Linked DNA regions of Homo sapiens: region 2 is linked to region 1. The links come from fine-mapping of genetic effects on gene expression. A gene starts in region 1. The other region holds a variant in brackets. All regions are shown on one strand. Distances are from middle to middle. Region 1 holds the start of LINC01497 (long intergenic non-protein coding RNA 1497). Region 2 has its middle 27 kb from the start of LINC01497.

Evidence for each region. PIP is the estimated chance that this variant, and not a neighbour inherited with it, causes the effect. A credible set is the group of variants that fine-mapping cannot tell apart.
Region 2: its variant is the best candidate, but not a certain one, in a credible set for the expression of LINC01497 in esophagus mucosa (GTEx, PIP 0.55).

The regions. Positions count from the first base shown.
Region 1 is chr17:69,958,329-69,963,719 of GRCh38, forward strand. It overlaps LINC01497 (long intergenic non-protein coding RNA 1497), which reads left to right and starts at 3,379. Exons shown (of 5, transcript NR_110875.1): 1 at 3,379-3,509.
Region 2 is chr17:69,932,100-69,937,490 of GRCh38, forward strand. No RefSeq gene overlaps it. Among named protein-coding and RNA genes, the nearest start is that of LINC01497, 27 kb to the right of the region's middle. The variant G/A (reference allele first, on the strand shown) is at 2,373.

The DNA.
Region 1 (5,391 bases):
GTGCAGAGTCCTCTAGGAGATGGAGATCATAAAAGAAAAAGAGCTAACTTCTTGGATTGATCTAGGGAAACATGGTGGAGGAGGTGGCATTAGATCTAGTCGTAAATAATATGTAAACTTGGGATTCCTATTAAAGGGCACATGTGGAAGTAGGGGGGCGCAAAATTGTTGGATGGAATTTAGGCTGAAGCATCTTAACCTCAAACCAAAGAGCAACGGAAACAGTTGTATAAGGGGAGAGGAAGGGAAGAGAAGAGAGTGTTAAAATCTTGATGAAAGGGATAGCAAAATTGGAGTAAGATATGACGCGAATTATCGATGGAGGTGTACAGGAAAGAATGCACCACATTTCAATTTCTTTCAATACATCCGGCAGAACAATGCCAACTAGAAGTCGAAGCACATTGTCCAGAATAGGCAAATGTACAGAGAGAGAAGGTAGAGTAGGGATAGCCAGAAGCTGGAGCGAGGGGGAACTAGGGAGTGACTGCTCATGGATATGTTTTTTTTCTTGAGGTGATTAAAAATGTTCTGAAATTAGGTTGTAATGATGGTTGTGTGGCTTTTGCAAGTGTTTAAAAAGTCATATATTCTCCACTTTAAAAACAGTTCCCACTTAACCTTTTCATATGTGTTTAGATATAGCTTGTTCATTGGTTGTCCTTATTTATGCTCTGTTTTGATTTAGTATTGGCCCATGTTTTATGCTTTATGTCCTCCTCAGATTAGCAATCTTGTTTTGTATCACAGTTTTGATGGTGGCCTTGCTCCAGGATACTACTTCAGGTCTTGTTGCTATTATTTCTACTATGGATAACAAGAGCCCCATCCTAGCAGATAGGACACTGCCCTCCTGAAACTATTCTCCACCTGGCTCCAAGCCTGAGGGGGCAAGGGAATTATGCAGATACATTCAATCAGAGTCATGAAAATCAATTAGGCAGCATTTTAGACGGGTTATAAATTGCTAAGGCTTAACTTAGAATGGGGTAGGATTGAGAATGAAAAAGAAAGGAAAGAGATCTTGTGCAAGAATGGGCAGGGTGTTGTTTCAGATTACACCTGGAATAGAGTCAGAGTAACCAAAGATAAATCACATTTTAATTCCCAAGTGACACAACTTTTTGTCACAGTTCCTTGGAATTTCTACTGGAGGGTTATATATTATGATATAACACTTTACACAGTGCTTGGTATACAGTAAATCTAGGTAATGGTTTTGGCAAGGATTTTATGTTTATGTTTTGTTTTTACTTCTTCCCAGGAGACTCCTGCTTTCAAGTCAGTTCATTAATCATTATCATTCTCATCTACAGGAGGTAGGAATTAGTATCCTCATTTTGTAAATGAGACTACTGAAGATGAATGAGATTAAATGATTTGCCCAAGGCCTCCATGTTGGACTGTGATTTTGTAAAAAGGCAGAGCAAATTCTGTTAGTTCTACATAGGAGATGGGAGATCACAGCAGGTTGATAGAATCTAGAAGGGGCAAAATGGAGATGAGAACTTAGAAGTAGAAATGGAAACAATGAAGATGTCAAGAAAGGCAAAGTCAAGACAGGTGAGAGCAAGACCCAGCTTTGGGGATTTGGATTGGCAGGGCCAACCCTGCAAACCAGCTCAGCCAGAAGAGGGGCAAGGCACCTTCATTATGGGTCAATGCTTTGGAGTTTGAAGGGGGAAAGTGGAGAGTCCCTGGGAACCTAAGCAACCCAGGAAGAAGAGGGTCAACGATAGCAGATCTCATGGAAAAAGTATTTATGGAAGTATGTTTTTTACCTACTGCCATTGTGAATTGTCTGACAGTTTCACCATGAGGTACAGAGCAGCAGGAAGGCTACTCAGAATCAATCTCATTTCTAGGGTGAAGACTCTTGTATGTCCTGATGGGATGACTTTCATAGAAGAACAGCCTGCAGATAATAATGGGTTACAATAAACTTACTGCTCCTGAAAGAACCAGCAACTAGTTTGTCCTAAAACCAATCTTCCCTTCTGATAAGTCCCAATGCCATGTAACCATTGGATACTTATCATTTGTTATATAATGAGTTACGTTTTCATATATTTATGCTAACTCTCTAACTTGACTATATATTCTACCAAGATAGAAGTAAATATTCCTTCCTCATTTTCCTATGGATATAAATTTATACATTGTACCTATTTAATCAAATACTTGACTGGTTGGATGCCTGCATCAAATGCAGACATGACTCCCCCCAAAATGGGCTTTGTAGGAGCCTATGTGGCAAAGATTAGGGTTCCTGGGAAGCCGAATCTGAGATGAAATTAAGAGCTCGTTATGTTAATTAAGGTGCATCCTTGGATTCAACACCTCTCGAGTTAGGGGAAGGAAGCAGACAGGGCAGAGAAAGAAGTTGAGCTTCCACGGAGACCCATCACAGCTTCAGGGAATCTCATAGAGATTTCTAGAGCTAGAATGACCCTTCAGCATTTTCTCAGGTTGATTTGCAATGAACAGGCCCTTACACTCCCTCCTTGATCAGTTTTTGGATGTGGGCTCCCTGCAAAGGGATGTGTCCTTGGGCAAGGCTGCTCTCTGTAACAGAGGCAATCCTTGGAAGGGCAGCCAGCTTATGGCCATCTGCCAACAGCTGAAGAGCAACAAGTTCTTCAGTGAAGGAAGGCCTGGCCAGTGCAGCACTGGGCTCATTTATATTAGGTAACTCCAGGTAAATGTAAGTGCATTTCTTAGAGGTGGGATGAGGTACTTTGAAGTACCTCACTGAGTTTAAAGGCAAAGGTATTGATACCCACAGTTATATTCATTATTTCTGGTTGAGTTCAATTACACTGAATTTGAGATGGCAGTTTGAAAATTTACTGTCAGTAACTACCAAAAAAAAAAAAAAAGAAAGAGCAGAGCATTGTCTTCGCGATTATGCTGGGACACTTTCAGAGTAAGTCCCCAAGATACAAGGTCCAAAAAAAATACTGATGTGGTACTCAATTGTGGTTCTTTGTAGTCTCTTTCTAAGAGAACTTCAGCTGCATGTTGGATGGAAAACAATATGAAACAAGGGAGAGAGAGAAGAAACAGAGTTTGTTAATATTCTCTGCTAGATTCTGCAGAGGAATCACTTTATTTTGCAGTTGCAACTAGCTTAAGTTATGTAGCTAGAAGTTATGTAGCTAGAAAGCTGACTTGCACACTTAAAGCTAATGAAGAGAAATGCAGGTTTTCCGGGGTAGGTTCTTGGCACTTCTCTGCAAATAGGTAAAAGGGAATGGCAGATATTCAAGCTTAGGGAGCAAGCAGCAAGGACAGAGCCTTCCCCGTCTCTGTGTGTTGAAGTCAGCAGATAGCACACCTGCTGCTGCGTGAGTTCCTTCTGCCAAGCAGAGCAGCACAGCTGCAAGACACCCTGCTTCTGGCTCTGAGCTTTGCTTGTCTTCAGGGATGGAGCCCCTCCCAAGGCAAGTTCAACTGGGTTCTTTGGCAGCCGAAGTCTACACGGACCCTGCAGGGAGCGGTGGAGAAAAGTGAGTTTGACATGCTTGGAAATATTTAGATCTTGGATGTAAACTTCAAGGAAAATATTTACTCTGTTTGTTTTAATACCACAGAGGTTTGGATCCCGGGAATCTTCAGAGTACAAAAGGCTCTTGCCAAGGCACCAATTTAACAATTTGGTCAGTGACAAAAGGGCATCCTGTTTAACTAGTCTGAATTTAAATAGCATGTTTCCAATGTATTAGCATGTCTGTCTCATCTGTTTACAGAACTGTTTTCTTTAACCCCTGAATTTTGTGTTTGGTTTATGAATTTGCACAGAATCAAATACAGTTTTTTAATAGAAAGCAAGCAAAAAAGCGGATCATCACATAGTTGAAAGAGTTGCTACCCGGGCATTGACAATAAACTTCCCACGATTACTTGACCATTCAGAGCAACCAGATCCTTGTAGAAGGCTACAAGCTCTCTTTACTCATGGCTCTTGGTGAAAAATTCCTTACTGTCTCTTTGCTGGTGCTGAGAAATACTGCAGAATGCTAAAGGACTGTCCAATTATATTTTTGGCGAGTGAATTATGATAAAAGAGAAGCCTTTTGTAAATGTGACTTGAAAAGTGGCGTATTTTGTGTCCTCTCTTTGTGTTTTATGCAGAATCCCTACTGCAGGACACAACTTTCAGGACTCACACTGATTTCCCTTTAGTTTTCTGTTTTTGTTAGTCTGCAGCAGAGTGGGAAATAGTTACTGTAAAGGGAAGTCTTAAGAAAACATATCAGTTATGTGCACAATATGTGTACATATATGGAGGAAAAATAGACAAAAAAAGGAAACTGGCATCACAATGCTCTCTCTAAGGGCCTATAAGGGATGAACTGGGACTCCTTCCTGCCTTCGGATAGCACATCAGGCAGAGAAAATGTTAACCATTTTTCAACTCTCAGAAAAGCAGATTTCATGATGTCATACAATGTCCTATTCCACTGTCAGATTGCTTCCCCACTTTGGCAATTAAAAATAATTACACTTTTTTTTTTTTTTTTTTTGCTGTACTGCCAAGCCAATTTCTCCTATACAATTGTTTTTAGACATGGCGAATGAACAGCTGCTTTTCAATTATTGGACACAGTTGTATTTCAATTCTCTTTTAACAGCTGTGAAACAGAATTCCTATTCAGAATTTTATAACAGTAAACCACACAAAAAGACTACTGTTGTCTCTCTGCTAATGGAGATTTTGTGTCCCACTTCTTTTTCAGTACCATTTCCCAGATGCTGTCTATTATCTTTCCTCCATCTTTGCTTGACTGTTACTACCATGTGTATGATTCCAACCAAGTCTGATGTCTGCTGATTAAACTTTCTTTACAATACCTTGGTCATTTTTTCCCTCCGTCAGAAGAGAAAGTTATCCCACTTCTCCTAACCAGTTGACAATTAAGTGAAGAAAGAATTTTAATACCTAAATGGTCATTCTGTCACTACCCACTATTGTCACATTTCTTCTTAGTTGGATATCAGTCATAAGAACAATTAGAGTGGGAAAAAGTCAAACATGTAAAAATTTATATTTGCTAATAAACTAATTTGCGTGGGAGCCATTAGAGAAATATAGACTCATCTGCTTTACAGCAGCTTAGAACAGACAGAGATCTACCAGGCCAGTTAGTATAACTCTAATGCCTTTCATCTTGGAGAAAGGAAAACAAGCTAGAGTGGTTAAGTAATTTTTGTTTTCAGATAAACCATCTCTGTTGTAGCTTAGATATCCTAGAGCTCAATTCCCCAGTTTTAGTAGCTTCCTTATTCTGTTTTTTGGTGTGTTTTTTTTGGACGGAGTCTCGCTCTTGTTGCCCAGGCTGGAGTGCAATGGCTCATCTCAGCTCACTGCAACCTCTGCCTCCTGGGTTG
Region 2 (5,391 bases), 26 kb before region 1:
CCAATAAGATGGTATCATCCACTCTGAAGAAGGTAGACACAAAATTAAGCAGTGTTTGGTGAGTTAATATGACTGAACTCAATTAGATACCTGGCCCTGTTAGACTTTTGTTTTTCTAGTCTACTTTAGCCTGAAGACTCTTAAGAAAGAGCATGGGATATGTAACAGCAACCTAAGAATTGAGGAAGGGTGAACAGATGAGGTCATTTTTGGCTTCTGTAAAATGCTAATGGCAAGAGATGAGACTTTATCTGAAAGTGAAGTTCTGGGAACACTGGGATGTAGAGAAAGTGGTGTGAAACTTTGAGCTATATTTAGCTGCATTTGGTTTTCCTTCGTTATGACGTGGGTATGTTAACTGATATAGTTTGGCTCTGTGTCCCCACCCAAATCTCATCAAGATGGTAATCCATATGTACTGAGAGAGGGACCTGGTAGATGGAGATTGGATCATGGTGGCCATTTCCCCTATGCTGTTCTCCTGATAGTGAATGAGTTCTCACAAGAGCTGATGGTTTTAAAAGTGTGGCACTTACTCACTCTTGCTGTCTTCTACCACCTTGTGAAGAAGGTGCCTGCTTCTCCTTTGCCTTCCACTATGATTGTAAGTTTCCTGAGGCCTCCCCAGTCATGTGGAACTATGAGTCAACGAAACCTCTTTTGTTTATAAATTACCCAGTCTCAGCATCTTTGTAGCAGTGTGAAAATGAACGAATACATTAGTCAATCTGTTTAACAAACCTATATTGTTATAATTCAACTGGAGAAAATAATAACCTACTTCTCAAAGTTATGAGCCTTAGTTTTGGAGACCATGAAGGAGACAGGATTGGACTTCAATAAGGGATGGTTGTTATGATTATGCATATCATACTTTTTACTGGGTGAGATGTTTATATGACAATTATTTGCTGCCTTAGCTATTGGTTTAAAATAACTAATTTTTGTTAATTATATTGCCATGACACTACGATTTTGTTAATATTTTTGTTAAATAGAGCATAAAGGTTTTGAGTAGTAAAAAAGCTGAACTGATAATATTTAGAGCATATACCTTAGTCTTTCATATCTTGGATTGATTTAAAATATTTTAAAATGAGATTATCTTTTTTCTTCAGGGATAATTTATACTTTATTTTTGGTTTCCTATGAAATTCTTTTCCAGATTTGCGGGGAAAGTATCTTTGTTATACGTGGTAGTCATTGAACCTGTAATTTATTTATTCACACTGAAAACAGAAAATGTAGCTAATATTGATAATACTTTCATAAGTTATTGAAGACTACCAAGAAATTTAATGATGGCACATAAACTGCATGTTAATGGTTAGAGTTTTTTATTTTGTATGAGTATATATTTGAGTGAAATAACATTCCAGTTCCTTGTTAGGGAAGAAACTAGAACAATCAAGGTGATTGAAGATTCTCTAAAGGCTTTGCATTTGATTCTATTGAAATCAATTATCCTGAGTGGGTCTGAAGGGACAATTGTGCTTCCTGGGTTGTAGGTTACTTGGTTTTAACAGCTTTATTGAGGTATAATTGATATCCCCCCAAAATTACATGTTTAGTGTATAAATTTGGTGAGTTTGAACATATACACATTCCCATGATATCATCAAAATATTAAACGTATCTATCACCTCCAAACGTTTTATTGTTCCCCTTTGTGTTTTTGCATGTGTATGTGGGAACACTTAATATGAGATCTAACCTCTTAACAAATTTTTGACTACACAATGCCATATTGGTGAAATAGAGGGCACTATGTTGTACATCAGATCTCTAGAATTTATTCATTGTGCATAAATAAAACTTTACACCCATTAAACTACTTTCCACTTCCCCCTCCCTTCCAGATCCTGGCAACCACCATCCTGTCCTCTGTTTCTATAAGTTTGACTATTTCAGATAAAAAAAATTCTACTGTTTGTAACAACATGGATGAACCCAGAGGACACTGTGCTAAGTGAAATAGGCAACCCAAAATGACAAATACTGCATGATTCCACTTCCGGTTTCCTTTTGTAGGTGGCTCCTAGGGTTTCTTGACCTGGACATAACTGACATTTGTGGTTGCATGATGCTTTATTGCAGGGAGGAAGGCTGTCCTGTGCATTGTAGGATGTTCAGCAGCATCCCTGGTCTCCCCTCTCTAGATGCCAGTAGCACCCTTCCCCAGTTGTAACAACCCAAAATGTTTCCAGACATTGCTAAATGTCTCTTGCAGGGCAGAACTGCCCACCCACTGAGAACCACTGTATAAAGGGAGGTGAACTTTCATCCCCAGAGAAAATGTTCTTCTTTACTGGTTATGACTGTTTGGACCAGGAGTATGGAAGTCCTTGTCCCGAATAAGTTCTTAATTAGAT[G/A]AGAGGGTTACATGCTAGTTGGAAGCTATAGTATAATGGGGATTTAATTCAAGGTTAGAATTGGAAGATGGAGAGAGAGTGTTATGCTTTAGAAGGAGTGAGGGCAATGTATCCACAAAAGGCAATAGTTCTGAGTGGATCCTTATCTGTGCTATAAGAAGTCTTAAGAGTTCATTGACCTCATCATGTATTATACACCTACATTTCTATTGTGATTGATGGAGAAACCAACGTTGTGTGTTTAGCCGAATTACCTAGAATGCACAGGTAATGAAGGCAGGAGTCACATCTCTCTTCCTCGTCTTTTCAAAGCTCTGGAAGGGTCCACTTCATAAAGTAGTACTTAGTAAGTATTTGTATAGAAAAGTGAATGGATTAAAAAATAAATGAATTACAAGGGATGTAGGTGGGTCAGGAGATCTGAGAAATGTTCTTCCTTTGTTTTCTCGCTCTCTCACCCAGGCTGGAGTGCAGTTGTGTGATCATGGTTCACTGCAGCCTCAAACTCCTGGGCTCAAGCAATCCTCCCACTTCAGCCTTCTGAGTAGCAAAGACTACAGATATGCACCACCACACCTGGCTAATTTCTTAATTTTTTTTGTAAAGATGGGGTCTCCCTGTGTTGCCCAGTCTTGTCTTGAACTCCTAGTCTCAAGTGATCCTCCCACCTCTGCCTCCCAAAGTGTTGAGATTACAGGCATGAGCCACCATGCCTGGCCCTGAGAAGACTTCTTATTCTACCGCCAGCTTATTGTGCAAGTCACTTCACCTTCCTGAATATCTTGATCTAAGAAATGGATAGTGTGTTAGGTGATCTTGAGAGTTTCTTCAGGCTGTGAAATATCATGGCTCTGACAAGATTACAGAATGTGTTGCATAATTGTGATATTAAAATTATTTGGTAACTTGAGCTATGAAAACTTGTGTGTGGAGCAAGTTGGTCTCCCTAGTGAGAGTCTGTTTCACCAAAAGCGATCAGAGAATGTTGATCATAGTTACCCAAAAGAACACATGCTACAGGTGGATATGAAATGAGGAATGGACAAAAACAAGCTGCTAGAGCACATAACTTTTCATTATGTATGTTAGGTATTTCTTTCTTTAATAAGGGTGAAATACTGAAGATCTAGTAAAAAGAGACTATTAACCAACAACTAAATTGTCTGGAATCAGGAGGGAGTAATCTCATACTAAGAAATAGTCCTATTCACATGTGAATTAAACATTAAGTTATTTCTTTGCAGGTATTTTGGAAATAAGTAATACATTTTCAATACACCTTTTAAGATATATCTTGTGGTAGAAATAGATTAGTCCTAAAAGGTGTTATTTTTTCCTACCATAGGGGCTGGTTGTTAACAATGCTCATAATATTATAACAAGCATGTTCAGATGATTAATTAATGTTGGAAATTCATCTTTCACCCAGACTCTAAACCAGAGAAACTACTTCCACAGGAAGCCTAATTACCACTCAGATAAACTAGTCAGTAAAAGTGACAGAAGTTTTACACCCCTGCAACTTGGTAAGGTAGAATACAAGCAGATTGCAAAAAAAAAAAAAAAAAAAAAAAAAAGCTGCCCATACTCTCAGAGCAAATCCAGGTGTAAAACCAATTTATGTTTCAAGTGCCTACCCATGCTGATCTAGCCAGGGTTATATAGATAATGTTAAGTGTAATTTATGGTTGAGGCAGATTTGTTTGGCAATACTGAAGGTTTTCTGTGGGAAGTTAGAAAAGATAGAGGCCTCCAAAAGCTATCACGACTTTAGGAAAAGTTTGGTTGATGACAGGTACAGAAGATGTGGTTTTTCACTCTTAGCTAAGAGTGCCTAAGTAGGCATGGCATCCAGGATTAGCTCTATGTGTGGCAGTGTGGTGACAGTCACGTGGTGATATGGTTTGGTTTTGTCCCACCCAAATCTCATCTTGAATTGTAACTCCCACAATTTCCATGTGTTGTGAGAGGAACCTGGTGGGAGGTAAATGAATCGTGGTGGGGGGCGGGGGGGGTCTTTCCCATGCCATTCCCATGATAGTGAATAAGTCTCGCAAGATCTGATGGTTTTATAAAGGGGAGTTTCCCTGCACAAGCTCTCTTCTCTCATCTGCCACCATGTGAGACGTGACTTTCATCTTCTGCCATGATTGTGAGGCCTCCCCAGCCATGTGGAAGGCATACCAAGTCTCGGGGATGTCTTTATCGGCAGTGTGAAAATGGACTAATACACGTGGCAATTCTAGAGGAGCAGAGAATCAAGCTATAGACTTTAGCAGGAAACTACTGGGATGGCAGGAAAATGACTGCAGTTCTGATGGCATTGGGAAGAGAGGGCAAGGAACAAAAGAAGACAAAACTCAGCAAGGCTCAGAAGCTCTAGTACTGGGGCAGCTGTTGAAAACAAAGAGCATCTAACCATGGTGTATGGCACTGGAGGGACAGTTATGAACTGAGATCATGAGGGAAATTCTGTCAAAAACAAAGCACAGATCTTCAGAAATTTCCAGACTCTAGAGATATGGAAAAGAGAGAAGATCATAAGCTGGAATACAGAAAAGGACCCCTCCAGTATCCAGCACTCTGGGGCTGGCAGGCCAGGTAAATCCTGGGAATATAAGAGACCAGGTTGGTTAGAATCTGGTTGGGCAAGAAGGATGACTACCCCAGAAATAATCAAGAGTTGCAGAACTTGTTTCACTCAATAACAAAAATCTGCTGAGTCTTTACTCTAAGCACCATGGTAGGCTCGGAGACGATAAAGATTAAATCAGAAATAATCTCATTCTTCCAGCATGGGCTACATAGTGATATCCCATCTCTACAAAAATATTTTTAAAAAATGAGTCTAGTAGGCATGGTGGCTTATACCTAGAGTACCAGCTATTCAGAAAACTGAGGCAGGATGATCGCTTGATCCCAGGAGTTTGAGGTTGCAGTGAGCCATGATTGCACCATTGCACTGTAGCCTGGCTGACAGAGCAAGACTGTGTCTCAAGGAAAAAAAAAAAAAAAGAAA